7 separate regions of the Homo sapiens genome follow, and all the other regions are reported to be linked to region 2. Evidence: microRNA targets listed by miRTarBase, many of them from high-throughput screens and not tested one by one. Region 2 holds a microRNA gene; each other region holds the end of a gene's coding sequence.

Evidence for each region. Region 2 holds the annotated microRNA hsa-miR-4301 (UCCCACUACUUCACUUGUGA, at 2,905-2,924, shown strand). A microRNA usually pairs through its seed, bases 2 to 8, with sites in the 3' UTR of a target mRNA and lowers its output. Matches are read on the target gene's strand: a 7mer-m8 pairs with bases 2 to 8, a 7mer-A1 pairs with bases 2 to 7 and ends in A, and an 8mer does both.
Region 1: the mRNA of HLA-DOB is a reported target of hsa-miR-4301. The part of its 3' UTR that is shown has no 7-base or 8-base seed match.
Region 3: the mRNA of IL1RL2 is a reported target of hsa-miR-4301. Seed matches in the 3' UTR shown: 7mer-m8 at 837-843.
Region 4: the mRNA of ARL6IP6 is a reported target of hsa-miR-4301. Seed matches in the 3' UTR shown: 7mer-A1 at 2,439-2,445 and 7mer-A1 at 3,611-3,617.
Region 5: miRTarBase lists MIEF2 as a target of hsa-miR-4301. The part of its 3' UTR that is shown has no 7-base or 8-base seed match.
Region 6: the mRNA of TBX15 is a reported target of hsa-miR-4301. Seed matches in the 3' UTR shown: 7mer-m8 at 1,788-1,794.
Region 7: miRTarBase lists GPRIN2 as a target of hsa-miR-4301. Seed matches in the 3' UTR shown: 7mer-m8 at 310-316.

The regions. Positions count from the first base shown.
Region 1 is chr6:32,809,088-32,813,624 of GRCh38, forward strand. HLA-DOB (major histocompatibility complex, class II, DO beta) reads right to left here. Exons shown (of 6, transcript NM_002120.4): 5 at 4,353-4,384; 6 at 3,676-4,164. The coding sequence ends at 4,129. Among named protein-coding and RNA genes, the nearest start is that of HLA-DOB, 5.6 kb to the right of the region's middle.
Region 2 is chr11:113,448,290-113,452,982 of GRCh38, reverse strand. MIR4301 (microRNA 4301) reads left to right here and starts at 2,895; the gene lies at 2,895-2,960. The region is part of intron 1 of DRD2 (dopamine receptor D2); the gene reads left to right.
Region 3 is chr2:102,238,792-102,241,791 of GRCh38, forward strand. It overlaps IL1RL2 (interleukin 1 receptor like 2), which reads left to right. Exons shown (of 12, transcript NM_003854.4): 12 at 401-1,211. The coding sequence ends at 450. Among named protein-coding and RNA genes, the nearest start is that of IL1RL2, 53 kb to the left of the region's middle. RefSeq lists enhancers at 1-123, 1,978-2,272 and a silencer at 2,212-2,271.
Region 4 is chr2:152,758,658-152,763,350 of GRCh38, forward strand. It overlaps ARL6IP6 (ARF like GTPase 6 interacting protein 6), which reads left to right. Exons shown (of 4, transcript NM_152522.7): 4 at 1,090-3,739. The coding sequence ends at 1,183. Among named protein-coding and RNA genes, the nearest start is that of ARL6IP6, 42 kb to the left of the region's middle.
Region 5 is chr17:18,263,760-18,268,452 of GRCh38, forward strand. MIEF2 (mitochondrial elongation factor 2) reads left to right here. Exons shown (of 4, transcript NM_139162.4): 4 at 1-2,793. The coding sequence ends at 1,005. Among named protein-coding and RNA genes, the nearest start is that of MIEF2, 5.4 kb to the left of the region's middle. RefSeq lists an enhancer at 3,544-4,137.
Region 6 is chr1:118,880,573-118,884,992 of GRCh38, reverse strand. TBX15 (T-box transcription factor 15) reads left to right here. Exons shown (of 8, transcript NM_001330677.2): 8 at 1-1,946. The coding sequence ends at 261. Among named protein-coding and RNA genes, the nearest start is that of TBX15, 110 kb to the left of the region's middle.
Region 7 is chr10:46,545,645-46,550,337 of GRCh38, forward strand. It overlaps GPRIN2 (G protein regulated inducer of neurite outgrowth 2), which reads right to left. Exons shown (of 3, transcript NM_001385282.1): 3 at 1-4,693. The coding sequence ends at 3,716. Among named protein-coding and RNA genes, the nearest start is that of GPRIN2, 8.7 kb to the right of the region's middle.

The DNA of each region.
Region 1 (4,537 bases), not on the chromosome of region 2:
GAGAACACCAAGAAGCTTTAGTTTACATGGGTTATGTAAAGTGACATTTATATTAATTTATTTGTTATTAAATAACAATAACAAACCCATTACATGTTAACATAAACAACACACTTTTATGGAAAATAGCTGTCTTCTCCAGCACAAAAAAATAGTGAAAAAAAAGGAATTATTTTACATTTGTAAAAATCTCTTTAATGTCTGGCTTAATAAAGCTAGCTTGGTTATATATTCTTCTACATTCAAGCTGTAACAATATGTTGTTTTGGCTAAAGCACAAGAGGAAAATCTGGCCTCACTCTTATACACAGTTGGGAAAAGAAGGAAAGTTTCCATAACCATTTCAGCTATCGTAACTGTTCTTCCTTGATAAGACACCAAAACTCAAGAAATGGCAGATTCTTAAAGGTTAGTTGCAGTGTGGAATCTGAAACCTTATATATTAACTTTTCATATTCTGTTGTGTTAAAATTCACTAGTCTATCTTTAAATGGATCTTTATGCATGACTTTGCAATATCATGCATTGATTATTTGTAAATTATTGATTCATGGGTTTACGCAGATTTTTAAAATGTTGACATATTTTATTAAACAATATTTTTTAAGCCATATTTGTTAATATCACCACCAATCTCATCAGAAACATCTTTAAGTAGTGAGAAGCTGTGGCACACGTAAGTTTTCCAAAATTTTAATTTTCTCTTGAAATTCCAATTTCCACTGTCAATATTATTTTCTTTGATGGGATAGGCTCATTTTGTTTATTTTTGAGAAAATTTCTACCAAATACCCAAGTCTGAATAATCACAGTGTGCCTTTCAGTCATTCTTTCAAGGAAAATGATGACCCACTAAAAAAAAAATGTTTAACTTCACTCACAACTCATGCAATTACATAATGGCTTTTCCACAGGACAACTGCCTTTCCATCAGTATGCACCAGAAATGCTGCCTATGTTCTTACACTGACTATTAAACAGATGTGTGCTTGAGGTTTAAAATTTAGTAAACTAATGATTTTATTGCTTCATCAAGGTCACTGGCTTTTGCTTTTTTTTTTTTTTTTTTTTTTACTGTAAGCTTATGGCAGTGAAGAACATGACCTACCTGTACAGCTTGGTGTCACCACCTTGATTTGTGCTCAGGCACTAACAGTTTCACGTGACCACCATAGATTTCTGTACCAATATGTAAATAATACAGTGAAAAAGGCAAATAACATCTTAGTATTAGTACAAAAATAGCTTGACTTCATAGGCCCCTTGAAGGGTCCCAGGGACCCCCAGGAATCCATGGACCACACCTTGAAAACCACCACATGACAGGGATATCAACATAAGGAATGATGGTGAGCATTAAACATATCTCTACTCACAGAACTAAGACTAACAAGGGAGCAAGTAGTCTATGCAATGGTACAGGATCAACTAATATAGACATAGTTCAACTAGAAAGCGGGGGAGAACATAGGTAAAAAGGGAGAACACAGGTAATAGGGAGAATGTAGGTAAAAAGAATTTCAACCGTTTTCAGTAGCCATTTTGGTGGTTGTGTATGAGTGTTATTATCCTTAGACTGCTGTCTATGTTAACTCAGGAAAAGCAAATAAGTATGGACATTCTAATTGTGTCTGTCCCTGTGTCCTTGAAAACCAGAGTTCTTGGTATAAAAGAAAGGAGATGCAGAAGTAATATAGAGAAGACTGATTTTTTTTTAAGATGGAGTATTGCTCTGTCACCAGGCCGCAGTGCAGTGGTACAATCTTGGCTCACTGTAACCTCCACCTCCCAAGTTCAAGCGCTTCTCTTGCCTCAGCCTCCCGAGTAGCTGGGACTACAGGCGCGTGCCACCACACCCAGCTAATTTTTGTATTTTTAGTAGAGACGGGGTTTCACCGTGTTGCCCAGGATGGTCTCAATCTCTTGACCTCGTGATTCGCCCGCCTCGGCCTCTCAAAGTGCTGGGATTACAGGCGTGAGCCACCGTGCCTGGATGACTGATTTTTTTAAATGTATACATGTATAAATGTTTTATTGCCATTGAACAGGCTGGACACAATGACCATTCCTATCTATTTAGGCTCCCCCACTGCCCCTCTCCCTGCTTTCTTTCCATGTCCTGACCGAAAAATCACAGAATGCCTCTGTGACCCAGCCAGCTGCAGGTTTTTCCCAGCAGGCTCGAACCCAAGCCAAGGCCTTGAACACTCCCAGGCACTGATAAACGTATCTAGGTTGTTTCTCTAAACACTGAAACTTTGTCCCAGCCCTGAGCCAGGTTCCTTAAACCTTCATATAAGCTCCATACCCTGACCCCCTCGCTGCAGACATACCTAGGCAGAACATCCCTTTTCTCTTGCTGTCTGCAAGGACTCCTGAAGCCCTCTGTAGGTAAATTCCCTAAACAAATGTTTTGGACTGATCACCCTGGCATTTAGTGCTTCTTTCTTTGAATCCTAACCCACACCATCTCAGAATGGTTTCAGGAACTTCCTTGTGGTAACTCCCTTGACGCCACTTTTGAGGTGACTCCAGCAGCGGGTTCAGTGGGACAAAACACCCTAACGCTGGATTATAGTCTTAAATGTCATTTCCCACTAAACTAAACCAGGGATTTCTGGAAAAATGGCTACCTCCAGGTCTGGCCAAGAAATGAACAAGATGAACCAGAAACATGTTGTCATCCCAGATAACAAAGAAATTATCAAAAGAAATTTGCGTCAAAAGAACTCAGTTTCATTTTTAGCCACTTGAAGAAGTTTTCACTCACCAAAAATGTAGGATATAAGCTTTAACAAGCATAAAAATTGCAATAGAGTAAAACCTATCAAACATTTAAATCCTTCTGTTTATAATTATTTAAAGAATGAAAAGTAAAACCTGATTGGCCATCTGTAGGTTTTATTAATAGTAGGAAACCAATTTGCTAACTTGAAAACTGGTAAATAAAAGGAGAGTCAAACACTGATCCTGCCTTTCCACTGTACCACTAAGTAGCCCACTAGTAAGTGGAGGGAAGTGTCTCTTCACTAGTAAATGAAGGGAACTGTCTCTTTGTAGCATTAATAAAGCATATAAATGAAGAAAAAATGACAGAATACCACCATTTAGCAATCCCCAATAAATTAACAGACCTAAGCAATTAGTATCAATGGTTGCTAACATCACAAAAAGAAACAGCTGGAAATTATGTCTCTCATGGTGAAAGGCCACAACACCACGTATAGATTTTCCAAAGGAAAAGATTGAACCAGAGTCTGATCCAGCCTCTGCATCCAGATGCCAATTTGCGGGAGGCACAGAAGGCAGAGGATGTGTTACACTGCACCATGTGTACGCAGCCAGCAAAATCCAGAGTGTGGGAAACTCTACAGGTCAAATGGATTGAGCTTTTCAACAGATTAATCATAAGGGGGAAAAAAAGGCTGATGGGGGAGAAACCAGTGAAGTATGAGAGACGTAAAAGACAACTAAGCTGTGGCGTCCAGGAACACATACCTGGGGGACTAGACTACAAAGACATGAAAGAGGTTACAATAAAATCAGGATATGGTCACTTTCGAGGGGAAGGAGAGGCTTTGATTGGCCTGACGTACAGAGACTTCCGCTGGAGCTGGCAAAGTCCTGTTCCTTGACTTGATTACAGGGGTTTTTCTTAAATAATTCACTAAAATGTACATTTTTTGTATCTCCATTTTATTTGACAATAAAAGGTTTTTAAAAACAGTGAAAAGGAAACAGTGACTACCTGAGCATTTGTCTTCTGAAGACTGTGGAGACTGCAGTTGGAAGACAGAAAGCTTTGGAGATCATGACTTATAGGAGTAGGGCTGGACCACAGAAAAGTAAATGATTTGGGGCTGGAAGGAGTAAGGTCTCAGGGGAGTTTCTGGACAATGCCCTTGGCAATGGGGATTAATGATGTACACGTAGAAGGGAGAAGGGCAGATGGGTGGGAGATGCATGATCTCAGAACACAGAGCTCCAGAATCAGTTCGGGCTCCTCCAAGGATCAGGGAAGAGAGTTATTCCCAGAACATTGACCTCATGAATGTCCTTTACCTCACCCAGGGCCCAGACTACTCATCACTACTTCAGGCTCCAGAGAGAGAAGCTTCAGTGAGGACCTTAGCATGACTGAGGGAGCAGAACAGCTCTTGAGACCTGGAGGCACAGTGATGAAGGTCTCAGGAGGCAGCCTCACCACCCCCCACAGCCGTTCCAGAGACTCAGGGGACAGTCCCATCCAGACAGCAGCAACCTTACTCCTCCCTACCCCCATGTCATCTCCCTCTGGCCAAAGAACCGGGAGAATGATCTGCCACTCAAAGACAAGGAAAAAGAGACATTACCTCATTACCAGACATCTGCGTCCTCACATATCCTGGAAAGAAATCGAGAAAAGAATGGATTGCCCCAATTAGGACCCAATATGATTATCCCGAGGGAAGAACAAATGGCTGGCAAGGTCAGCACTCTCTCTGCTTATCCCATTTCTAGCTTCAGAAAAAAATTATCCCGGTGATCCCTGAGAGGC
Region 2 (4,693 bases):
GTGTGAAGTACTATAGGCAAAAAGGGATAGTGGCTGGGCAGGGTGGCTCACACCTGAAATCCTAGCGCTTTGGGAGGCCGAGGCGGGTAGATCACCTGAGTTCAGGAGTTTGAGACCAGCCTGGCCAACATGGTGAAACCCCGTCTCTACTAAAAAAAAATACAAAAATTAGCTGGACATGGTGGCAGAAACCTGTGATCCCAGCTACTCAAGAGGCTGAGGCAGGAGAATTGCTTGAACCCAGGAGGAGGAGGTAGCAGTGAGCTGAGATTGCACCACTGCACTCCAGCCTGGATAACAAAGCAAGACCTTATCTCAGAAAAAAAAAAAAAAAAGATGGGGACTGGTTCAGAGAAGGGCCATACTACTGGGATATCCAGTGGTCAGTGGTCAGTGGTCAGGGAAGAATTCCAGAAGATGTGTGGTTTGAGTAGGACCCTGGGGAGGTGAGGGTGGATCTGAATCAGCAGTGTCTCATTTCCTGTCCCCCAATGTGCGCGCGCGCGCGCGCGCACACACACACACACACACACACACACACACACACGCATGCACACCAGTGGCCCTAGCCCTTGCTCCTCAACATGGAAAGCAAGGGCTAAACTTCAGACAAGCTTTCCCCATCTTCTGGAAACCACAGCTTCACAGTTGCTGCTTTTCTTGTGTATTTATTTTTCAAGTTATTTACATAAAGGATCCACCGGCCCCTTGGCTGTCAGACAACATTGCCCTTTCTCCTGGCTTTTATCTGACTCCTGGAGAGGTTGTCATGCTCTCAATTACCTGAAACATGCCTGTGTCCCAATATGATTTGGGGTCAGCCACCTCTTACTTTGCAAGCAGTAAGTACTACAACCACAACGGCCGAACTTGACGCACAGATCCCCATTAAAAGAAGAAGCGTGCAGGCTTTCCTGCAGGCCTCTTGGGCTGCTGGCAGGCAGGCTGGGGTGTGAGTTGAATGTGTTGGGCTGGAGGGGGCCAGAGGAGGGGAGAAGAAATGGGACAATGGAGCTCACTCAGCTTCCTAATCCATCCCAGCTATGGAATTTTCCTGTGAATGTTTATTTTTTTGAGTCATGTACACTGTTAAAGTAATATTTTTCAAAAGATTAAAAATCTGTTTCTCAAACAATTACATGTCAAAGATTCATTTAACTCATGAATGAGACAACTAGCAGAATGACAAAGCTGGGTTTAAGAGAGGATACAGGCCTATAATCCCAGCACTTTGGGAGGCTGAGGCCAGTGGATCACTTAAGGTCAGGAGTTTGAGACCAGCCTGGCCGACATGGTAAAACCCCATCTCTACTAAAAATACAAAATTAGCCGGGCGTGGTAGCAGGTGCCTGTAATCCCAGTTACTTGGGAGGCTGAGGCAGGAGAATCACTTGAACCCGGAAGCAGAGGTAGCAGTGAGCCAAGATTGTGCCACTGCACTCCAGCCTGGGTGACAGAGCAAGATTCCATCTCAAAATAAATAAATAAATAATAAATAAAAGAGGATACAGGAAAAATTATATATATACATATATACGTGGAAGAAATCTGGAATAAGATTGCTAAATTAGATGCAAAACTTAATGTCTCACAGGGCAACAAAATCATAAGGCTTTGGACAATCTTCTCTACTGGATGGAAATCACTCACATGTTACCATCTTTTCTAACTGTTAGCATCTATCTCATAGGTTTAGGCCCTTTGTGGATGGTAAATAGTAAACAAACAAAACAGATTCTCCTGGAGAATCAAAGCCTGAGGTGGGCTTGCTGCCTTATTAACAAGTTTTGGATACATATTCTTAACAGCTTAAAAGAATCTAGCCAGTCCTGTGCAGTGGCGATTCTGCAAGTTGCTGAATATGCCTATTCCAATTATGTGTTCTGGAACCAGAGAGGTAACTACAGGGTGGGTTCACAGACCCACTGGACCCACTGTGAGAAGGAACTGAGCTAAATCTCCATTGATTGCCTGACCTCCAGAAGTCCCACCTTTGACTGGGGGCTACAGTGATGTTTTGGGTCTCCAGGAATTAGTGTCATTAGAGCCTGGTCAGAGCCCTCACCTAATCTAGTAATCCTCCAAAAGTCTATTTTATTTTCCCAATGCATAGTTACCCTGGTAAGGAGTGGTCCGTTTGGAGAAAGCTGGGAGAAATATTAACAATGTAAATTTTTGGCAGGGGTCTTCCTCAAGAGGACCAAATCTCTCCTTCATTTACGGGTTCTGCATCTGTCAATTGGCTCAAATCTGGGAATTAATCAGGGGCCATAACTCTCTGTTTTGGTGAAGAAAGTTAGACTTCTGATCACTTGATATAGAACTCTTCTACTTAAAGAGATTGAGTGAGAATGTAGTAGACTGCCTATCTATTTCTCTGCTAAGGATACCATGATCACCTAGCCAACACTGTTGGTCTCAGACTATTTTATTAACTGCTTTGGCTCTGCTGTCCATTAGGCTGTGGAGACAAGGTGGGGTTTGGGAGAGGAGCCTTTGAGGCAGAATGTTGAGATGTGAGTTCTGATCCTGCCTTTGCTACTAACTAGCTGAGTAATCTTGTGCAAATAGAGAAGCCTCTCTGGGCCAGCTTCTTCAACTCCTAAAGAGGGAGTAATAACCCTGCCCTGCTTGGTCAGAGGGCTGTTTCGAGGCCTTCAAAAAGCACAACAATGTTGTTAGCTCTGGTTGCTTGTTTGGCATTGGTGTTTTAGATGGTGTGAGTAGAGGATGCAAGCTGGAAGTGCTTTGGCTCAGCTAGTGTGATGAGTTAGTTGCCGGGATTTCATGATAGGGAGATTTCAAATAAAAGTTCCAATTTCTGTCTTCTTTTGAAATATTGTTTCCATTCTCAAATGGCAACAATAGACTAAGGATCCCATTCTCTCCAGTTTACCAGCCACCTCCCACTACTTCACTTGTGAACATTGCATTCGTGGAGGGTGGCAGGTGCAGCTCTGGATGCTGGGAATAAGTGCATACAAAATGGAAGAGATATGAACTGCACAGCGAGACAAGTGGAACAGCAGGGCTGGTGCTAATCTGAACGGTAGCTCAGGGAGCAATCAGTTCTACCCACAACTGCTCACTAAACACCGCCCCCTGATTTCTTTCTTGGCTCTCAGCCATTTTGCTCTGACTTTGGGGTGAATTTTCGCTTCTCTGGTAGTCTCTCTCTGGCTCCAATTCTTGGAAGACCCATCCGGCTTGTCTGAGTATATCCACTTGCTAGGTATTCAGACCATTTCTGCACTCTCTTCAACTGTTACTCCAGCTTAAAATCACAGCTTAACTGGCTAACAGTCCTCCCATGGCTGACACCGTCTTGGTGGGAGCAGCTCCGTGTTATGGCCGTCACTCTGCTAGCCCAGCATTTATTCATCTAGAAGTTTTACTGTGCACCTATGATGGCATGTGCTCAGGGGGAAGCAGCATTATGCTTTTCCAAGCCTGCCCTTGGCTCACATGATCTGCTCATGTTGGAAGGACGCCTACAGTTCCCAACTCACTTGTGTAGCACAGGTGCTTGACATGTCCAAACGTCATGAATGCCAAGGCCTTCCTGTCTCACCTGCCCAATTTCCCAGGGCATCTCAGTTTCCCTCCTCCCCCAGGGGTCTGGGACATGCCTCAACTTTACAATATTACCTTGGCAGAGCCTCCCATATCAGACTCTATGGGAGCACAGCAGGAAGAAGTCTTGATGAGCTCAGAGGGTTCAGGGAAGGCTATTCTAGGAGGTGGGCTTTTCCCTTTGAAGAGTTGGAAGGATTTGGACAGTTGGGAATGGGGAGGCAGGTGGAGAAATGGCAGCATTCAAAGGAGGATGAGGGGAAGCGAGGGGTACAAAAGTCACAGACTAGATCAACGCCAGCTGCAGTCTAGCCTGTCCACAGGAGGGGCCAGCAGGTAATGTGGGAAGATCAAAGACAGAGAGCTAAAGAATCTGGACTTTTCCCTTCAGGGGAGTCATAGAAGATATTTTGAGCGAGGCGGTGACATGAGCCTGAAGCCATGGCTTTGGGAGGTGGACTTGGTGGGCATGTGCAGGATGGTCAGGAAGGCAGGCTAAAGGTAGGGTTGAGAAGAAACTCTTGAATTTGGCCCCCTGCTGACCCCTCCCATCTCCTCCATCCTGCCTGGGTCTGTGGGCCTGGTCTCCTCTTCGCAGGCCCAGTGTGGTGCAGCTCCTTTAGAGGTGGCCAAGGAGAGCTACCCAGCTCCTTACCAATCCTTTCCACTCTAGGGAACCCGAATGAGGCCTGACCCCAGTCCCCTCTCGGAAGTGACAATGAGCTTGAGGAAGAGACAGAATAGACTGCTGTACCCGTGCCCTTGGATGAGGACAGTGAACAACACCAGGCCCTCTGGCTCTGTCTTCCTCCTGTTCCTCTCTCATGGCTGGGGCTGAGATGAAGACAGGTGATTAATACTGCTGTCAAGAGAGCATCACGTTGCAATTACTGAGATGCCACCTCCTTCAGAAGGAAAAATATTGTAGCAGTGACTCCTGGGCTTTTTAGAGTGGGGAGCAGCTCTGACAGGGAGCCAGGAGTCTCTGTGTTTCCAAGAATAGCCAGGGAGTTCCCCCGGAGCTTGAGGCGTGGTTTTCAGCCACCGTGCATCTGGGCTGGGCTGGGATGCTGGAATCACAGTTGCTGCCTGGTTCCTTCCAAGGAGCGGCTGCCCCAGG
Region 3 (3,000 bases), not on the chromosome of region 2:
GGAGATGGGAACTCTGTGTGTGGATGTCCCCTCCCATACACCCAGGAACTTCTGAGAAATGCTGCTGTTCACTAATACAATTCCACCCTCATCTCCCAGGCTGTCCCTGGAGAGGAGCTCTCCACTTGAGAAGGACCTCAGAGCCCTGGCTCTTGTCATCCAAATTCACCTTTCCTCTGGGGCTCTTATAGGAAAGGTGAGAGTTGACACTGCTCACCTGTGATCCTCTGGCATAACCACCTTGCAAAGATAACCCAAGAGAAATGGAAGCCTCAGGGATATACCACCAGATGAACTGACGGCAAGGTGGAGGTTTTCGCATTCCCATGGCAGGTTTCCTTATCAGCCCCCATCTCCCACCACATCAGAAAAGGAGTAAATAGATCTTTCCTGATTTCAGGCCCAGAACTAGGCTCAAGAAGAAAGAAGTGTACTCTCACGACTGGCTAAGACTTGCTGGACTGACACCTATGGCTGGAAGATGACTTGTTTTGCTCCATGTCTCCTCATTCCTACACCTATTTTCTGCTGCAGGATGAGGCTAGGGTTAGCATTCTAGACACCCAGTTGAGCTCAGGCGTAGAGAAGAGGAGGATGGGATAAGAACTGGGGCCATCCCCATGTCATGGTGGGTGAGAGCTGGGGCCATCCCCGTGGTCATGGAGGGTGAGAGCTGGGGGTTATCCCCATGGTCATGGAGGGTGAGGGCTGGTCGGGGGAGGCATCCCCAAGTCATGGTGGGTGAGAGCTCGGAGCATCCCCATGTCATGGTGGGTGAGATCTGGGGGTATCCCTGTGTCATGGTGGGTGAGGGCGGGTGGTCATCCACATGGTCATAGTGGGTGAGAGCTGGGGGTATCCCTACATCATGGTGGGTGAGAGCTGGGAGCATCCCCATGTCATGGTGGGCGAGATCTGGGGGGTATCCCCACGTCATGGTGGATGAGAGCTGGGGGAATCACCATGTCATGGTGGGTGAGATCTTGGGGGATCACCTGTCATGGTGGGTGAGAGCTGGGGGGATCACCTGTCATGGTGGGTGAGAGTTGGGATTCATCCCCATGTCATGGTGGGCTGAGCCCACATGGAAGCCTGTGCTTGGACAGCGTATGCCCTTTTCTCTGTTTTTCCACAATGAACAATTAAACTGTAAATGTTAAAAATATCAGTAATTTGTGAAATAAATTTTATTCTCATTTGAGCAACATAAATCACAATTTTGTTTGTTTACCATGCCTGTCAAAATCACAAACATTTTCTTATCAGTTTAAATAATGAAAACTGATTTCTGCTAAAATCATCTGACAATTAGCTTGTCAACATTCAAATATTTTTCACCTTAAATCCACTACCTTCGTGGTGTGGTCCACTGAAAAGTTGGGCAAAACCCAACCTGTGATTGAGGCTATAGAGAAACATGAGGGTCATGCACAATAGCTTTTTTTCCCCACACTTAGTAGATGGACTGTTTCTCAGTCTGACAGCCACCAAAGCTTTATGTCCTGATGAATATTTTCGTCCTCTCATCCTCTCTGATGGCCTCATTTCTCCAAATTTCTTCTTCTCCTCCTTTTTTTTTTTTTTTTTTTTTTTTTTTGAGACAGAGTTTCGCTTTTGTCACCGAGGCTGGGATTACAAGCATGAGCCACCGAGCCCGGTCAAGGCTTTCATATTTTTAAAACTTTGAAGTACAGTGAGAAACATAATTTAGTAAGCAACTCAGTATGCACACACGGAATGGAAAAAGCTCTGTTCTATGTTATTTGTTCTATTTTGTTCAAGTCTAGCTCAATTTTTCAAAATGCTGGTCACAGCTCGCCAACTTGTTTTAATAACCAACTTATGCCTTTCCACTGCAATCTGGAGAGCTCAGCCTCTCAGGCTGCTGGTCCCCCTGTCAATCACGATACTTTGGCTACTTTGCTTTCTTCAATCAACAAGGCTTTATCAAGAACTTATGGCTCTTTTAATTATCTGACTTCCTGGTCAATCAGCTTTGTTTGTGGTTTTAAATGACCACAGGATAGTAGAAGTGAACATAATTTCCTGCCTGTGTAAAAGGATGACATCAAGAGGAAAAGAAAGCAGCTCACTGGGTGAAGGACCTTGAGAAAGAGATGAACATTTCCTCTCTTGAGACACAGGACAAACAAGGTCACGCCTGAGCTCGGCAAACAAGGACTTCGGTGCCTGCCTACGGCGCCATTGCGCCCTCTAGTGGCTGCTGAGGAACCGCTGTCCAGCCCGAAGCTCACAGAGCCCCGTTCAGGCTGCCGCAACCTACCTAGGCGGCCAGAATGGAGACTTACAGGTGGGCGGGCATCCCGGGGTGCACACATTACCTTCTCGGGGCTCTCCAACTTAAGGCCAAGGATATCTTTCTTCTTTTTCGGCTGCTGAGAAGGTGGAGATAGTGCCATTTTCGAATGTGTTCCTAACTCTTGGGCTTCTGAGACTGTCGCAGTCTGTCCAAGGGTGGTGAGTGGGGATCAGCAGGCCCTGTTTACTATGTGCTCGCAAGAGGGGACTGCGGTCATAGGGATTTCAGAGAGGTGGCCCTGGCGTCGGGCCCCTGGACTCCAGTCACAACTCAACCACTTGCTGAGGGAGTATGCTAGCTAAATCCCTCTTGCAAGTCAAAAACCCTGTGCCCCAGTTTCTTCCTCTGTAAAAAAGGGATAATACAATGTTGGTATCCTTATTGCCCACTACAAAAAGGGCCAGAGAATATGAACAGGACATTTACAAAGTAAGGATTAATTCGTACAAAAGCCCGGTGAACGGAAAATGTGTGTAACATCACAAATGATCTGATGCCGCCAGGTAGGGGGGCATTTACCATGTGCCAGACAGACCCTAAGCTAAGCTCTTTAAGTACATTATCTCATTAACAGTCAATTATCCTATATCCTCTCCATTTTAAAATGAAGAAAGTAAGTGTGTAAGAGATTAGATAACCCACCCAGGGGTAACACAGTTGTTAGACATGGCCCCAGGGAA
Region 4 (4,693 bases), not on the chromosome of region 2:
AACCATCAGGAAGCATCAGGGTCTATGTAGCTTCAGATGAATGCAAAGGGCTCTTCTTTGAAGAATGTACCTTCTTCAATCTCTGCCACAGATATTGTGCGACTGGAATCACTATGAGGTGCTCTTCAAGTGTTAGTTCACAGCTAAGTGCTTCTCTGGCTTTGGCTACTCCTTAGGAAAGGAGGAGAGGATATGGGTATTTATGACCGTCTCAGTCCAGGGCCCTTACTGCTTTTGTCTTTTGGCTTTTACTTCTGCTAGTGCACCTTCCTGTGTGTCCTCAATTTGTTTTGCTCCAGAAAGGAGAGTATTCTGTTCTGCCTTCTAGAGAGTCTCAGTTGGATACTACCTTCTTTTCTTTTTAATATGTCTGATTCTTACTAGGATAAGCAAATAGTATTATTGCAATACAGTTAGTGGGAAAAACTGTTGTAAGATTGTTACAAGATAAAGGAAACAAATGTCAGGGAATATTCATGCACATAAGAGTTATTAAACTAGTTGGCACTCCTAGCAATCATAAAAGAGATGTGTCTTTGCTGATTCTTAAGAACTCATTGAAAACCACTTCAATTAAGTAACCTATTAGAATGATAGCTGAAATATCTATGAAAGACATAGGGAGTTCCTTCATATAACCTAAAAGTGGTGCAAACAGAACAAATACTTGAAATAATATGTATTTTAAGTCAAATCAAAGTAAGAACAGACAGCATGGAAACACACCGCTAATTAATGAAAGAACTGTTTGTAAAATAACAAAACTTATACCTTAGAATTAGGTTATGGCTACACACAGTGACAATGAAACACAGTAAAGAAATAATAGGGATGAAACTCAGCATTACTCATCAGTAATGATTTGAAACAACTGTAATTGTTAACCAGTACAGTTTTGACACAGGACTTAATAAGATCTATCCACTATTTATCCTGCAGATGTCCAATATTCTTTAAGTTTTGTATTCATATGTGAACATTTGGGAAATACACTCCAAGGTCATAAGTATTTTCGATGAAAACTTTTGGTGTCTTTGTTATACCACGTTACATTTTTCTTTTTTGATTTGTGTTTTTCTTTTTTTCTAGGAAACTGACTGGACATTCTTTCCACATGGGCTATAGCATGGCGATTTTGAATGGCATCGTAGCTGCTCTTACTGTAGCATGGTGCCTCATGTAAACCCACACTGGAGCGATATTGTTGGCAAAACTTAATCATGATTGTTTTGTAATAACAAGAAGGAGCATCACTGTCTACTCAGAAGACTGAGAAACCTGCTGTTCATTATGTAGTTCAGATATTTATCACAATCATCCTCATTATGGAAGACCTTTTAAAGCATTGTTTTAGAATGTCTGAGTATTAAGATACAGATTAATTGGGAATATCTGAGTATTAAGTACTTTCTTCAGAGTATAAGATGTTTACCTCATCTTTTTACTTTTGTGTGTGTAGTTCTTTCAAGTTGTAGGAAACATTTTAATGGAATTTAAACTCAAAAACTTGAATACAGGACAATGCTTGCCTTTTCATGTATGTACTACATTTTTTGCTAAGAAATACTGATATTTCTGTTTAGTTGAGCTAGAAATACTTCTTATTTATACATTTAGGAAAGCAAATAATGCCTACTACTCCGACTTTTATAGAAGCTACTTTTAAATCAGAATATTTAATTTTTGATATTCATATAATTAATAGAAGTTGCATTTATATTTTTTATGGGGCATAGTTCCTTATGTGTTTTTTTAATGTATTTTCATACTACATACTGAATTTGTATGTTTTTAAAATTGTTACATCTAGACAACTGTAAACATTATTTTTTTAGCTAGTGCAAACCTAGTACCTGCCATTTTTACTAATTTTTGTCTTTAAAAAAAGCAAAAAAGCACATTGACCTAAGTTGAAAATTAAGTAAGTTTATTTTTAACAAAAAATGCCTGAAAAAAGCTAAATTATTTAAGTCATTAAGATATTGAGAAAAAATTTGAAATTTTTACTATTTCTGTTTCCACAATTCCAAATATTTATCTTGGTGTATATATTGTTACTTTAACAGAACTTGCATTATTTTGTTTTTAATAAATATAAACATGAAATTTTTGTATGTGAGAATGATTGAACTAGTTTGTTCTTAATCTCAAAAATTTAGTTACCAAAGTAGAAAAGGTATTTTGATACTAGATATTAAAAACTACATATAGTTAATATAATTTTATAATTTTTGTAATTAAATGTGCTCCTGTAATTGTGATATTTTGTTTTCTAAGTAATTAAGCCTTAATTTTTCCCCTATGTTACTAAAGACTTTTAATGTTTAGAAAGTTACCTCAGTTTTAGAAAGATGGACTACTTACAAAGCTGTTTTCCCTGGCCATAGGAAAACTTACAATAAGAAACCATTAAGTAGTCAAACTGCTTATTCAGGCTAAGTGGGAAATGAATTTGTGCAGTGTGTTCCCTTAATTATCTACTGAATGTTGTTACCGACTAAACAAGGTTTCTAAAAGTCTCGCATTTCTTTTACTATTCAAAACTCTTTGGTTGGAAATGACTAATACTGCTCCAATTTAAATTATCTGAAATGTGTGTGTGTGTGTGTGTATCTAAATATCAATCCCATGGCTTAAGTATTCCTACCAGAGTGGTGGTTGCCATCAGTCTATTTTCACTCCCTGCCTTCCTTCCTGCACGCTTAAACTCTTCACCCTTTGACTCCAAAGAGCCCTTTCATTGCAAAGATGTACACAAGTAACAGAATCAATTTATCTTCTCTCCACCACTCTGTATTCCCACGCACCACCAATGTGAGTAACTCCCTCCAGATTGTTTGTGTCTAATGACTAGGAAAGTTATTAACAGTAGACCCTAGATAGAGATATGTACACCCTAGACAGTCATGTGCCATATAACAACGTTTTGGTCACAACGAACTGTACTTATGATAGTGAATCCCCCCGTAAGATTATACTGCTGCATTTTTTACTTTATTTTTTCTCTGTTTAGATACACAAATATTTACCATTGTGTTACAGTTGCCTGCAATATTCAGTACAGTAACATGCAGTACAGGTTTATAGTCTAGGAGCAATAAGCTATACCATATAGCCTAGGTGTGTAGTAGGCTATACCATCTAGGTTTGTGTAAGTATACTCTGATGTTCACACAATGATGAAATTGCCTAATGACGCTTTTCTCAGAATATATCCTTGTCATTAAGCCAAACATGACTATATATACCTACAAGATATATATTAATATAGATAAATATAGAGAGAGATGTATCCGTAAGATATTTTTGTGGAATCCTAATTCTTCTGGACTGTTACTCCCCTTTTTTGGGAAATGACCCTCCTCTCTCCAGTCTGACACAGGGTCCAAATATAAATCATCTATATGCAGAATGATTAGGCAAGGATAGTCACCTAACTCTGGCTGAGCTAATCCTAATCTCATTTTGCCTGGCTACAATGAGTAGAATAGAGAAATGACTTCAGTGAAGTATGTCTCTTCCCAGGATTTTTCAGCTTGAAATTAAGATGTGACGAAGCTGGGAAAATGCAAGCCCAGGAAATGCTGGCAGCTGTAGTTCAGCCAGGCTCAGTGGGAAAGAATAAGGCTGATAACGGATATTGCTAATGGCGTTACCCTGGTCCCTGAAGCCCAGTGGCAATCCTGCCATTCTTGATACGTGAGTCAATAAATTTCTGTCTTTTGGCCTTTGCAGTTTACATTGGCTTTTGTCATTTGCAACAAAACAAGTCAAAATGAGCTTATCTAGCAGCTGGAATCCATCTCTATTGTGAAACTGACTCAGATGATCTCATCTCCTTATGTGTAGCTTACAGCATTCTATTTAGTTACTTGTGAAAGATAAACGGGGTGTAAGTATTCCTGTGGCTAGTGATTAGTCTCAGGGACTTGAAAAGACATTTTAGAATAAATTAAACTATTATTAATCTTGCTGTTTCATCAAGAAATTATGTCCCCAAATTCAGTTCCACCTTAAGTGTTATCAGAAAGAATATTACTGTAGTTATCAAGATATGATTCTTTAGTTAATACAACGTAATGAGTTTGAACTACAACTGTTACTTAATATCTTAGCATTTCCCGGTTTCCTTACCTGTCGAATGGGAAGAATAATACTTAACAAAATACTTAAACTACAGTGAAAATACTACATGTCAGAATTTGTAGGACCTAGATAAAACACTGTGTAAGGGTAATTTATAACTTCAAATACATTTATCAGGACGAAAGTACTATTGAAAGCTAAAGAGCTAAGAATGCAGATAAAAAGCACAAGCAGCAGAGTAACATCCCCGCCCCCACCACACACACAAGAAAGATTGGAAATAGGAAAGATAAGGATACAATCAATGGAGACTCACACCAAAGAAGTGGGGACAATATCCAATACCAAAAGTCGTTTCCTGGAAAAGATATGATTGACAGACTTCTGGTAAGTCAGATTTAAAAAGAGATTTTCTATATTTGTCTATTTTCCTATTTCTGCCCATGCTCTTGGTTATGTCAGCTGCCAGAAACCATCTGTATTAGGGTTCTGTAGATGGACAGAACTAATAGGATATATGTATACATGAAAGGGAGTTTATTAAGAAGAATTGATTCACACGACCACAAGGTGAAGTCCCACAATAGGCTGTATGCAAGTTGAGCAA
Region 5 (4,693 bases), not on the chromosome of region 2:
GCACCGCTGTGTCTGACACTGCAGGAGAGGCTGCTGGCCTTCGAGCGGGACCGTGTGACCATCCCAGCAGCCCAGGTGGCTTTGGCCAAACAGCTGGCTGGCGACATCGCCCTGGAGCTGCAGGCCTACTTTCGGAGCAAGTTCCCGGAACTGCCCTTTGGGGCATTCGTGCCTGGGGGGCCGCTCTACGACGGGCTGCAGGCGGGGGCTGCGGACCATGTGCGTCTCCTGGTGCCACTGGTGCTGGAGCCGGGCCTGTGGAGCCTGGTGCCGGGCGTGGACACTGTGGCGAGGGACCCTCGCTGCTGGGCCGTGCGCAGGACGCAGCTTGAGTTCTGCCCCCGTGGGAGCAGCCCCTGGGACCGCTTCCTGGTCGGGGGCTACCTCTCCTCCCGCGTCCTGCTGGAGCTACTCCGCAAGGCGCTGGCTGCTTCTGTCAACTGGCCGGCCATTGGCAGCCTTCTCGGGTGCCTGATCCGGCCCAGCATGGCCTCGGAGGAGCTGCTGCTCGAGGTGCAGCACGAACGCCTGGAGCTCACTGTGGCTGTGCTTGTGGCAGTCCCTGGGGTCGATGCTGACGACCGCCTCCTCTTGGCCTGGCCCCTGGAGGGGCTGGCGGGGAACCTCTGGCTGCAGGACCTGTATCCAGTGGAGGCTGCTAGGCTGCGAGCCCTGGACGACCATGACGCTGGGACTCGCCGGCGGCTGCTGCTGCTGCTGTGTGCTGTCTGCCGTGGTTGCTCGGCTCTGGGGCAGCTAGGCCGGGGTCACCTGACCCAGGTGGTCCTGCGTCTGGGGGAGGACAACGTGGATTGGACGGAGGAGGCCTTGGGTGAGCGCTTCCTGCAAGCCCTGGAGCTGCTCATCGGCAGCCTGGAGCAGGCCAGCCTGCCCTGCCACTTCAACCCCAGCGTGAACCTCTTCAGCAGCTTGCGTGAGGAGGAGATTGACGACATTGGCTATGCGCTATACAGTGGCCTACAGGAGCCCGAGGGGCTGCTCTAGGTGGGTGGAAACGGGTGGTTGCCATGTTTTCTAATGCTGGGGAGCTGCACCCACCTCCCTTCCAGGGATTTGAATAGTGGTTTTTCTCTAGCTTTTTGCCAGAACAAAGGAGGGTACATTACTTAAACCCAGGGCATCAGGATGTGCTTGGGCTATGGTGGCCATAAACCCTGAGCCCAGAGAGCTTGGGTCACTGTCACCTGAGTGCAGCTGGGCTGCCTCAGGCAGCTTGGAGTGCCAGCCATTCCTGCAAGCACCGTTTCAGCTCTTGGGGCCAACCCCAGGACCTTTGGCTCTGTCCATCACCAGCAACCAATCCACCAACAGAATGTGGTTTCTGCCATCCTGGGCAGAAGCTGAAGGCCAGCTTCACATTTCTGCTGAGAGAAGGTGACTTAACGCCTTTTCCGGCCCTAGCTCCAGGCGTTTTGAGGCGTCTGGTGCCTGATGGTAGGTATGGTGTGTTTGTTCTGTCCCCCAGGGGCTGGAGTCACCTGGTGCCCCTGAAGGACAGATTTTTGGCTGTTAAAGGATGGCATTTTCCTGCTGTCTTCTGTGCGTTTAGTTTTCTTGCTGAGCGGGAGCTCAGTATGACTTGCCACCCACCTGATACCTCAGGGCAAGGCCCTTTTTCCCTCCAGCCAGGTGAGTGTTTTCTTCAGGCAGCTGAGGGTCCTGGGGGAGCTGAGGCTCTGTGCTGCACCCCCAGCCCACAGCTGGGGCATCTCACTGGAGCTGTTCCAGGCCCCACTGGAGAGCAGAGGACCTGATCCCCCACTAGAGAGGTCCGGTGTGCACAGCCGGCCTCCCAGTGTGCCAAAATGAACTGCTCTCAGCTGATGGCTGTATTCTGACTTTGAAGCCTGTTAAGAGGTAGCAAGGGGGCTAGAGGAGGGAGATTCCACCTCCCCTCCCAAGTGACCCTCCTCCTGCCTCTGGTATCCTTCCTTTTGAAACGAAGCTCAGCTTCGAAGATGTGAACAAGAATAAAAGGAAAAAATTCTAATGTATATATAACTCAGGCTGGATAAGGGAGTCTTGGTGCTTTCATACGCAGCTGTTGAGGGTTTTCTGTAAGTCCTGTGGCTTGTCCTGGCACTTTGGCAAGAGTGCTTGAGGTCAATTGGAGGTGGTAGAGTTTACTTTAAAAAGTAGCATCTTGGCCGGGTGTGGTGGCTCGCATCTGTAATCCCAGCACATCGGGAGGCCGAGGCGGGCGGATCACGAGGTCAAGAGATCGAGACCATCCTGACCAACATGATGAAACCCCAACTCTACTAAAAAGACAAAAATTAGCTGGGCGTGGTGGCACGCACCTATAGTCCCAGCTACTCGGGAGGCCGAGGCAGGAGAATTGCTTGAACCCGGGAGGTAGAGGTTGCAATGAGCTGAAATTGCACCACTGCACTCCAGACTGGCGACAGAGCAAGACTCTGTCTCAAAAAAATAAATAAATAAGCATCTTGGCCCCGCGCTGTGGCTCACGCCTATAATCCCAGCACTTTGGGAAGCCGAGGCCGGTAGATCACCTGAGGTTGGGAATTCAAGACCAGGCTGACCAACGTGGAGAAACTCCATCTCTGGTAAAAATTCAAAAAAATTAGCTGGGCATGGTGGCACATGCCTGTAATCCCAGCTACTTGGGAGGCTGAGGCAGGAGAATTGCTTGAACCCGGGAGGCGGAGGTTGTGGTGAGCTGAGATCGTGCCAGTGCACTCCAGCCTAGGCAACAAGAGTGAAACTCTGTCTCAAAATAAAATAAAATAAAATAATAATAGTAATAATAAATTAGCATCTCAGTCTGTTTGGGCTGTGATAACAAAATGCCATAGACTAGGTGGCTTATAAACATCAGAAATTTATGTCTTACCATTTTGGAGGCTAGAAATCCAAGAGTGAGTCACAGATTCCATGTTTGGTTGAGAGCCCACATCCTGGTTCATAGGTGTCCCCATCTAGCTGTCCTCATGTGGAGGAAGGGGGGAAATGCTCTCCTAGGGTCTCTTATAAGGAAACTAAGCCCACCCATGGGGTGGGGGCCCACATTCATGATCGAATCACTTCCCAAAGACCCCATCTCCTGTTAGCAGTGCCTTGGGGGTTAGGATTTCAGCATACAAGTTGAAGGGGACACAGACTTTCTGTCCGTGACAAGTAAGGTAAGTGGAAGGAAAAGATGAAAAGCTTGGTGTTGCTTTAGTAATGGGAACCAGCCAGTTTGGGATGTTTCTTCCCGCAAGGCTGAACTGCTGAGCCCTGCACCATACTTTCTGTAATTAGTGGGCTGTTGACAGCCCTTCAGCCATGCTCATCATTTTTTAGAAACCTGTGTTTTTTTTCTTTTGAGAGTGAGTATCACTCTGTCGCCCAGGCTGGAGTGCAGTGGTGCGATCTCGGCTCACTGCAACCTCTGCCTCCCGGGTTAAAGCAATTCTTCTGCCTCAGCCTCCCGAGTAGCTGGGACTACAAGTGCGCGCTACCACGCTCGGCTAATTTTTGTATTTTTAGTAGAGATGGATTTTCACCATGTTGGCCAGGATGGTCTTGATCTCTTGACCTTGTGATCTGCCTGCCTTGGCCTCCCAAAGTGCTGGGATTACAGGCATGGGCCACCGCACCCGGCCAGAAATGTGTGTTCTCTACCTCCCTTGCACCTCTTTGTGGCTGCACAAGTGGGGAGGAAACTTGCCCCGCCTTGTGCAGGTGAGAGGCCAGGGCATCTTAACCCTCTCACCCGCAAGAGCCAAAGCCAGGGCTCACTTCCTATCACCAGATGACACATGTGGGCTGGGGAGGGCTCTGGTCTGCGTGCAGGGCTGCTTCCAGCCTAGCTGTGCCACTCGCACCCTGCTGGTCCTTCCCCGACTTACGTCCTGAGGGGACTCCCCTACCCCTTCCAGCTGTGACTGCAGGACCCAAGGGAAGCAGGACTGTGCCAAGCAAATGGAATAGTGGTGTAGGCCTCTAGGTGTTGGGTGTAGGGCAAGAGGCGGGCACGAGGGCTCCTTGTAGAGGATATTATAAGGGTCCAAGGTGGGAGACACTTGGCTGAGGTCCATTCCAATCACTTGGCTGAGGTCCATTCCAATCACTTGATGCCTTGATGCTGGAGAGCTTTGAGCAGTTTCCTTGGCGGTGTTGGGGCAGCAAGGGAACAGTCTGGGGCAGAGCCTGTGCCTCAGTCTTCTCATCTCTTAACTGGGGAGGGTCATGTAATACCCAACCCCAGGTGCTTGTGACGATTAACTGGGGTGGGCAGTGCTTAACATAATGCCTGGGAACGAGGACTGGTGGGCCTAGCTGTGCCCCACCCTCCAGCCACATCCAAGCCCCAGCACAGCAAGGTGCTCCCAGATGCCACTCCAGCCCCTGGTCAGAGCGCAGCTGTCCAGGAAGCAAGCTCAGTCTAGAGTGCCACTCCTTCGACGACCAGACCCCAACACAAGCCTGATGTAGAAGCCACTTGCTTCAGGTAGCTCTAAATGTACTGTCTCATACCATGGCTTAAAAAAAAAAAATCCAGGATGAGTTAAAAGTGTTCGTGGTTTCATCACCTAGCCAAGGTTAATGTCTGGGTCTTCCGTTTCTAGCCAGAGAACTGGAAACAAATCACTGTTTTGCTAGGAGCTTTGCATGACCTCACGCCCTAGGCTGCCGGGTCCTGGGCTGTCCTGATGGGCTGTGAAAT
Region 6 (4,420 bases), not on the chromosome of region 2:
CTGTATGGATACAATTTCCCCACTTCCCCTAGGCTAGCTGCAAGCCCGGAAAAACTGAGCGCCTCTCAAAGCACTTTACTCTGTTCTTCTCCTTCCAACGGGGCCTTTGGAGAGAGGCAGTACCTGCCGTCAGGGATGGAGCACAGCATGCACATGATTAGCCCTTCACCCAATAACCAACAGGCAACCAACACTTGTGATGGCCGGCAGTATGGGGCAGTTCCAGGCTCCTCCTCCCAGATGTCCGTGCACATGGTTTAAAGGCCAGTCCAAACACCACGGAGCATTTGGCAATCAAGGCCCCAGAGTCTCCGTGGTCAGATCCTCCTCTTTGGGAGTCCAGTGTCTTTGAAAAACAGGAACCGTGTTTTTTTTTTTTTTTTTTTTCTGGCCGAAGACATATACCCAAGAACAAGAGATACCTTTAAGCCAGTGAAGGATACTTGCGATAGAATCATCCGCAACTCAGTGGCCATTCTTCTGCCTTCCCAGACCTTAGTTTTATAAAGCATTGTCTGTTCCAGAGTGGCCTTTGAAGAGACTGAATAATCACTTCGTCATAATGTTAAGGGAGATGCTAGTGTGTGGCAGCCATGAAAAGTTACACATACACACCCACATACAGACAGACCTACCTATACATACGTGCACACACACATACATATTCATACACAATTCATACACATGCAATCATACATGCACACTGACTCTGAACTGGGTGAACTCTGTGGAGGGAGGCCCAGAATGGGTGCTTTCACCAAGAATTTGTCTGTGTACAACTCTAGATGGAGTGGGCCAGCAGTAGCTGCCAGTCTTTCTCCCCTGCAGCTTCCTCTGCTTCTGGAATGAACCATGTATCCTGGAGACCCTCCCAATGGATGAGAGTGGAAAGACATCAGTACAACTGGACTTGGCTTCCGGAAAAAGATTGCTTTTGAACTTTGGCTCTCTTCACTTGTATGCTATCATTGATATTCCCAGTGGTGCCCGTGGAAAGAGGGAGAAAGAGAAGCTGAACAGGAGAAAGACAAACAGAAAGAATAGAGAACAGGAACGAGGTGGAGAGCAAGACTGACAGAGAAAGTGTGAGCAATGATGAGAATTTTAATTCACCAAGGAGACGTGTTTTTGGTTTGTCCCCCCAAACCCCGCCCGCCCCACTACAGGTTATGGAAAGAATCATGGCATTACTGAGGAGTAAACCTCTCTGGCACACTGAGCATGGTCAGGGCATTGGTCAGAGGGACAGAGCAAGGAATGCATCCTGAGCCCACAGCTTTGACCACTGTGATCCAGAAGAGAGGTGCACTACGTGGGAAGTGCTGATTCCACAGCATGCAGCCTGGTAGGGGAAGGAAAATAAAAGGGTGTGAAGAAGGAATAGTTTTATAATCTCGGAAGATGATACCAAGAGCAGAGGCAACAAATAGAGGCCTGGCCTCCAGGTGCCGGATCCAGACACCTGACCTAGAATGCCTGCCCGCTATCCCTGTGGCAGGAAATATCCCCTCATGTCCCAGGGAATTGCAGATGGGTCTTCTATACCCTTCTACCTGCCCTTAGATCTCCATTTTTATCAAATAGTACATTGCATTTTGAAGTTTTGGGTTTTGTCCTTCATCTTTCCCTTTCCCTTCAAATCTTTTAATGGTAAGAAAGCAAGTGAAGCTTGGTGCAAGCTAAAATTTTTAAATGGTGTGGAAATGCAAATAATACCAAGTAAAATAATACAGATATTATTAAAGTTTCTGGTTTTGAGGTGTTGTAGATAAATGTATTTATGTGCCTAGTGGGGAATCCAATATTATGAATATGAAAAAGGGGGCAATAAAAGGGTATGTAAAATATGTATGAAGAAAAGGTGTACAAAAATTTGCCCTTATGCACGGAACTCTGTTTCTAAGTGCCAAGCACAGAAAGCCGCTAAATAAAATCTTTGCAATTGTTTTCTGCATGTTTGTTCATACAGAAAAATCAAATAACAGCCTTGTGCATTTTCATCGTGCATTACAGTGAGTATAGAAGTTATATATATATTACTCTATGTGATTTTTATATAGGCCCCATGAAGTGAATATTAGCATCCTTTTATAAGTAGTAACTGCATTCCAGAGAGATTGAATGAAATTTGTAGCATTATCCAGCCTGTCACAGAGGGAACGAGGACTTGAAACCAGATCTTCTGACTCTAATGGGATTTTTGCCTTCATATTAGCTGCAGAAACCTGTGTGAGGCTAATAGTAATTGTCATTGTTACTGTGTGCCACCTGATACTACATCATGTGTTTTACGTGATTATCTTATCCTCCCACAATTCTGTGAGATAGGTAACATTTGAATCCTCATTTTATAGATCCAGTAACGAGCTCATAAAATGTTAAATATTTGACCAAGTGGGGAGCTGGCAATCTGACCTTAGGGTCTGTGCAATTAGCACTGTCATTCAGCAGTACCACGAGGCACTTGGACAATCAGGAAAGAAGACATATCTTAAGGGATTGAGGTGAGAGTGCCTCTGGATTTTGCTTGGTATATTGAACAATAAGTATGTACTATCCTCCTTGAATGCATCACTGCAGCATGGGGAGAGTGGTTTTGAGTTGTCATGCACCAACTGACAACTTAGACTAATAAAGAGGCTAGGACTATGCCATTTACAAGAACTTTCATATATTATCTCACTGGAGCCTCACAATAACCATGAAAGGTGGACAGGCCAGGAAGTATTGTTTTGCAAATGAAGAAGTAAAAGATAAACTTTGTGACCTGCCCATTCTTAAGTGGCTGGGAAGCAGCAGAGCCAGGACTTGAAACCTCTTGCTCTTGCCCCTACTCCAGACTGTTTCCTGGTGGACAGTTACACTGGTTGCTCACTGACCCATTTCATCAGGGTTTGATTTGGTGGGCTCAGGTTGCCAACCACCACAGCCATTCACTGGAAATGGAGGTTGGTTTGGGAGAGCAAAAACCTTATTCATTGCTCTGGTTTTATAAATAACTGCAGAGGGTGGCATGCTAGTTAATTCCATTAGCCATCAGATCATTGCCAAAATAGCTGGACAATGACTGACTGAGTACCTCCACGGATTGTAGGCTCTCTGGGAATGACATGCCTCAAAACTTAGAAAACCACTCCTATTTGGAAACCTTGCATCACCCCTTGGTTTCATAATGGTATAACAAAAACAACTACATGTGAAGCTTACGGTTATTATTATTACTTTTTAATTTAGCAGCATACCAAACATTGTTCACTGATCTAACACCCTTTGAGGTTTGGGGTAATAGATAATCATAGTATGCCAATCAGAAAACTTGACATAAAAATCTCCATATTTTCACCCAATAGTAAGAATAATAATTTCAATAATCATTTAGAATATTAAGTACAGAACATTTTTGTAATTTGGGTTAATTAGAACAATCCAAGTTAGTTACATCTGAATTATGGCATATGTTTCCATGTGTACCTGAAGAAGTAATAAAAATGTTTTTTAAAAGACAAACTGGATAAAGAATTGTGAAGAATATGCTCTACGCAATTCTCTTTCATGAAATAGTGAGCATTCATTGTAATTGGCATAATGATTACACAAAGGGGTGTTTACTAGAAGGATTATTCTTCTATAGTCTAAGGTGCTCCACAATTGCTCATTTTTCTGGGGAAAGGCTATCTTATTCATCTTTGCATCCTCAATAGCTAGGACAGTTCCTGATCTATTATAGAATCTCAATACATACTTATTGTTTAATTTGTTGACCAAAGCCTTTTTTTAAGGATAAGAAATGGTTGCATGGCTAAATAATATTATTTACTCCAAGTTAAAGCTACCTAAATTAACAAAGGTTTATTGTTCTTCATATAGTATTCTGTAATAGATTAGTGTAAATGTAAATAGTAGCTAGCAAGCATCCGTTATACATAAGGAAGAGTAAAAATCACACCATGGTTTCTTTCTTGAAAGGGCTAGCTTTTTAGGCAGCCATTCACAATGAGGTGCATGATATAAAAGGCTCTGGAAATTCAAAGAAGATGTTTAGGGTAAGAAGAGGTTAATTGTTTTCATTGGTGAGGCAGAACTTCTACTGAGCTTTTAAGGATGCTCAGAATTTTTATAGAAATAAGAAATGGTGGGTTAAGAACAAAATAAGATTTTAAAAGACACTACAATGAATAAACATTGGAGGAAAAATAATAGCATTTCATTTCAGGGAGCAATTTAGTAAAGATAGAGATATTCAGAACTTTCTTACAGCCTATAGATTAATATCTTTTTCTATGGAGTATTTTTTCATTAGTGGGAGTTTTGAGAGCTGAGATCCAAGAGCAGAGCTGTCTGGTTGACGTGATTCACTGCTTAGTACTTTGAGCATTTCAGAGAAGCTCTGTTGTACCAGTTTGCATTCAGTAAGCTAAAG
Region 7 (4,693 bases), not on the chromosome of region 2:
CTGAACAAGGGACTTTTAAGGAAGTGGGATGTGGGCTGTGATCACAGCCAAGCTGGCAGGGTAAGAGGTGGCCCCTGAATGTGGCTATGAGAGGGGTGCCCAACACTACCAGCCTGTGTGCTGAGCACTAACTCAGTGCCAGGCACTACTTGGGTTATTCTATTTAATCTCCACACCAAGCATGTGAAGGAGGCACCATTGTCATCCCCATCTTACAGATGAGGAAGATGATCAAGGCTTGTAACTTGCCCAAGATCACATGGCTATAGGTGTGGATCCTATATATCCAGATTCAAACTCCAGCTTTAGCCCACTAAGCTACGGTGGCCAACCCCAGCCCAAAGTGTTGGGACCTGCGTGTAGAAGACCCCTTCAGCCCTTGTAAAGTTAGGATCTAGCATGTCTAAGGGGACAGAGACCCAATCCAGGTGACACAGGAGGTAAGATCACAGTGGAACAGGCCATCCCTGCTTTTCCACCACCACCAGCACTGTGACCTCAGACCAGCTCTACTCTATGAGTTTCTTGTGACAGTGATGGCAGCCTGGGGCCAGACAAGGGATGCGTGTCTTGTGTCCTGGACACAAGACAGGCAGGCCCAGAGGGGACAAGCTATATGAAGAGAGGCTTCAGCTGTCGGGGGTCCTGAATGCCATGGAAGGAGAGCAGGTGGGCAGAAGCAGGGAGCCCCTGGAGCAGACAGAGGGGGGATTCCTGCTGAGGCAAGGGGCTCTAGGACTCCAGGGTTTATGCTCCAAAGAACAGAATTTACCAGGACAAAATAAACAAGACCAGTCAGGACCGATGCCCCATCCCTGCTGGGGTCTGGCAAAGCTCTCACCTCCAAATTTGTATCTGTTTTGAATTCAAAGCCAAACAAACACATCAACAGTGAACTCCAACACCTCCCAGAGCAGGGCCTGAAAGGGACCCAGAAAGTCTGGCCAGAAATCTAGAGTCCAAGGGGAGGAGATCTGTAAACTAAACCGCTGGCCATGCTCTGGGGCCCTAAACCACTGCAGGCATCAGGGCTGTTCCAGGAGAGGGCACAGCAAAGGGGGTTGGGAGGGGTCTCCAGTTCCAATCAGAAATGAGGCTGCAGTCACTTCAGGTAGACCTGTCAGCAGCAGCTGTGCAACTGGGCTAGGGAGACAAGGATCGTGGTTTAGCCAGGAGAATCATCTGGGGCCCCAGCCAAGACACAGGTGTTGGATTTCAGCACCGCTCTGCAAATACTCATCTCAGTGACGATGAGGTGAGTGGGAGCTTGGCTGAGCCCAGCCCGGCCTGCCATCCTGGCAAGCCAGGGCAGCATGGAGGTAGCACAGAGTGGCACCCAGCCAGCGTGAATGCATAAGAATCTGCACGTGACACAGAAGAAAGTCTCTTCATGAAGTAGGTTTCACTGGTCCCAGCCAAACCCTGTGGCAGGTGGCCCTTTCTGCACCTGCTGAACATGCCATTCACCTTGACCCAGGTAGTGGCCTCACCCTCCTCTTGCTCAAACTGGAAACCTCAGCATCCTGAAATGCCTCCTCCCCAAATCCATTGCACACATGTGTGCCTGTGTATGCGTGTGTGTGCACGTGTATGAACCCAGCCCCCAGCTGCCCACTCCATTGCCCCTAAACAGGCCCCTCCTTGGTGTCACCTGGCACATCTCCACTGGAAGCCAAATGGATATTTCTAAACTGAAATCTGGTCCCACCTCAGAACCCCTTCCACAGTTCCCTTAAAGTTCCTTTCCTCATTTACATCAGGATCTTCACAATGGGGACCCCTGGTCACCTCCCAACCCAACAAACGCTCCAAATGAGCCGCCACTGCAGAAACTCATTATGGCCCAGGCAGGACAGGCACATCCAAGTATCTGACCAGGCTGTTCCATCTGCCAGGCAGGTCCTGCCCTCTCTCCACCCACCTGTCTAACCCCTGCATCCTCAAGACCCTACTTAGCTATGGCCCTGTGTGAAAGGTCCCTCCCCATGCACCCACAGCCATTTGTTCTCTCTCATGTGGCCCTAACAGGCTGGGGTTCCTGGAGACTCCATGGGGAGCCAGGCATGAAGATGGCATATACCCATGTGTCACTCCCCAGAACGTGAGCTGCCTGCCCTGGCACCATACACAAAGGGACTGACAGCCCCAGAATCCCAAGGGGTGCACCTATGCATATGGGAAAGGCATGTTTACGGGTGAGAATGGTCCATCGTTGGGCTTCAGGAGGCATCTGACCTGACGCACGCCTTTGTCACTTTGTCCTTGTGGCCTGTTGAAATGCCACTCCTGCTTTACAAATTCACCAACTGTTGCATGAGTCATTTCCACCTCAATGAGTACCAGGTCCTTGAGGATGGGGAAAAGTAAGCCACCACTGTGGGGGTCCTGGGCTCCTAGGTGCAGAAGAGGCTCCAGAAACAGGCCAGGTCGTGGGCCATGACCCCACACTAGCCCTCTGGTCCCTCACACGGGTGGATTGGGGGGCTGTGTCACGGGATCTTAGGATCTTCAAGACAAAGACCCAGGACAAGAACACAAGCCCACTCCCATTCTTCACAGGCCTCGAGAAATCTTTGGGCAATGAAGTCAGACTGTGCCAAAGCCCATGTTTCTGTCTCTCCAAGGCCCCTGGCCCCCACTGCCTAGCCTAGGTCAGGTCATGTGGGCAAGCGAGCCCCCACAGCCTCACAGCCCCTACCCCAGGGCCAGGGCAAACTCCTGCCCTGTCCCCCTCCATTCCTGCCCTCCCTCCTTCCACAAACTGCACCAGCTGGGGAGAAATCCTTCAGCCGACAGAATGAGGTGAAAATAGTGCAATTTTAGGCTTTGTAACTGAGATTAGGGCAGGTGGCCACCCATTCTCCCCTTCCTCAGGCCAGCCTCTGACACAATGACCCTGGAAGCCTGGCAGCCCTCCGTAATGGTCAGCATCCTCCCCTGCCATCCCCAACCCACACCATGAGCTCAGCCAGGGCAGGGGCAGCCTCTGTCTCATTCACCACAGAATCCACAGAACCCAGCACAGAGTATGAGCTCAGTAAATTCTCCTCATACATGACTGCACTGACTGGACCGGGCACATGCTACAGGGCAACACCCACGGCTCAGCTGGCCCTGGCTTTGGATCTCAGTCCCACCTCTTCAAGCTGTCCAGCGTGGGGCACATCGGCTACAGCCTTGCCAAATGAAGGCTTGCCAGGATGAAGAGGTGAAGACAGGACAAGCACAGTATGTGGCACACAGGAGGCCTCTGATAACATCAGTCCCCTTCCCTAAAGACCTGGGCAGTCCCTGTCACTGGGGCCTCACATTTCATGTCGAGAATTCACTATTTCTCAGCACTGATTTCAAATAAAGCCACCAAGAGTCTGACGAGGCAACATGGCAGAGTTCTGAGGGTGGAGTGAACAAAAGGTCATTTTTTACAGAAAACTCAGGATCTCCCCTCTGCACAGTGCTAAAGCCCTGTCTCAAAGTTCAGAGCCCGGAAGGTGCAGAGATGTGGCCCTTGGAAATCAAGCCCTTAAGAAAACAGCCCAGCTGTGTAGGGCCGGAAGCCCCAGGCTGCAGTCCTGTGGTCTGGAGGCAGCCAATATTCAGGTGAGAGATGTGCCCAGCTGCCGGTGGGTCCAGGGGGCACGGAGCCCCCACCGTCCCTGGCCCAGGTCTAGGACTAAGTCAGTGGGCCCAGGCCAGCTCCAAGGGCCACAGCTCCTCACTCGGGGGCCGCGCCGGAGCAGCCGCAGCAGCTGGGGCGCCGCAGGGACTGCATGACAGCCCGCAGTGGCCCCCTCCGGCCCTCCACAGACAGGCTGTCCTCGCTGGCGGGCGCCCGCTGCAGCTGCTCAAACTGCATCTCCAGGTGCTTCTGGATGGCCACACCGAGCACCTCCAGGTCCACCGCAGCTCCGTACACCTCCCATGTCATGCCCTCAGCATCCCATCGCACATCCCGCACAGGGGACGGCACCTCCTCCAGGCTGGACCCCAGAGTTACCTCTGGGAACACATGCAGGGCTGCAGGCGCTTCCAGGGACGGACTGGTGGCCACAGCCTTGCAGGCCGCCACTGGGGCCGCCTGCACACCAGCATCCTGGGCTGACAGCGGGGATGCCTCTGCAGGGGCCAAGTCATTGGCTGAGGTCATGGTCCACACATCTTTGGTCCTAGAGCCAGGCTCTGGGACTAACCCAGCGGGACCCCAAAGGTGGGCACAGCAATGGGAATGCCCAGGGAGCCCCCCAGACAACCTACAGTGGATCTTCACCCCATGCTGAGCCTGCAGCCCAGACTCGCTCACTGACGCCACTAGTTTGGGAAAGGCCAGGATCCCTGTGGCAGGTAGGGCATGGCAGCAGCCACCAGCCCTCACCTCCCTCATGCCACAGAGTAGAGCAGCTGGGGGCAGAGCATGGCAGGTGGTGGTAGCCAGCTGTTCAGCAGCTTTGGGCTCAGCCTGGGCACTGCTGCTGTGGGCAGTTGTGTCCCCCAGGTCTAGTGGTGGCACTGACAACTGACTCGCCCCCAGCATCCAGGCTGAGTTAGAAGTCTCATCCTCAGGAGCCAGGTCCCTTTCCAGGCCTGCAGGGGCCTGGCCACCCTGGCCAGAAGTACCACCTGGCTGCAGCTGAGCCCTGTGGACAGGGCTGCTGCCAAGGGCTGAGCAGCTGAGACTGGCCTTCCGAGCACCACT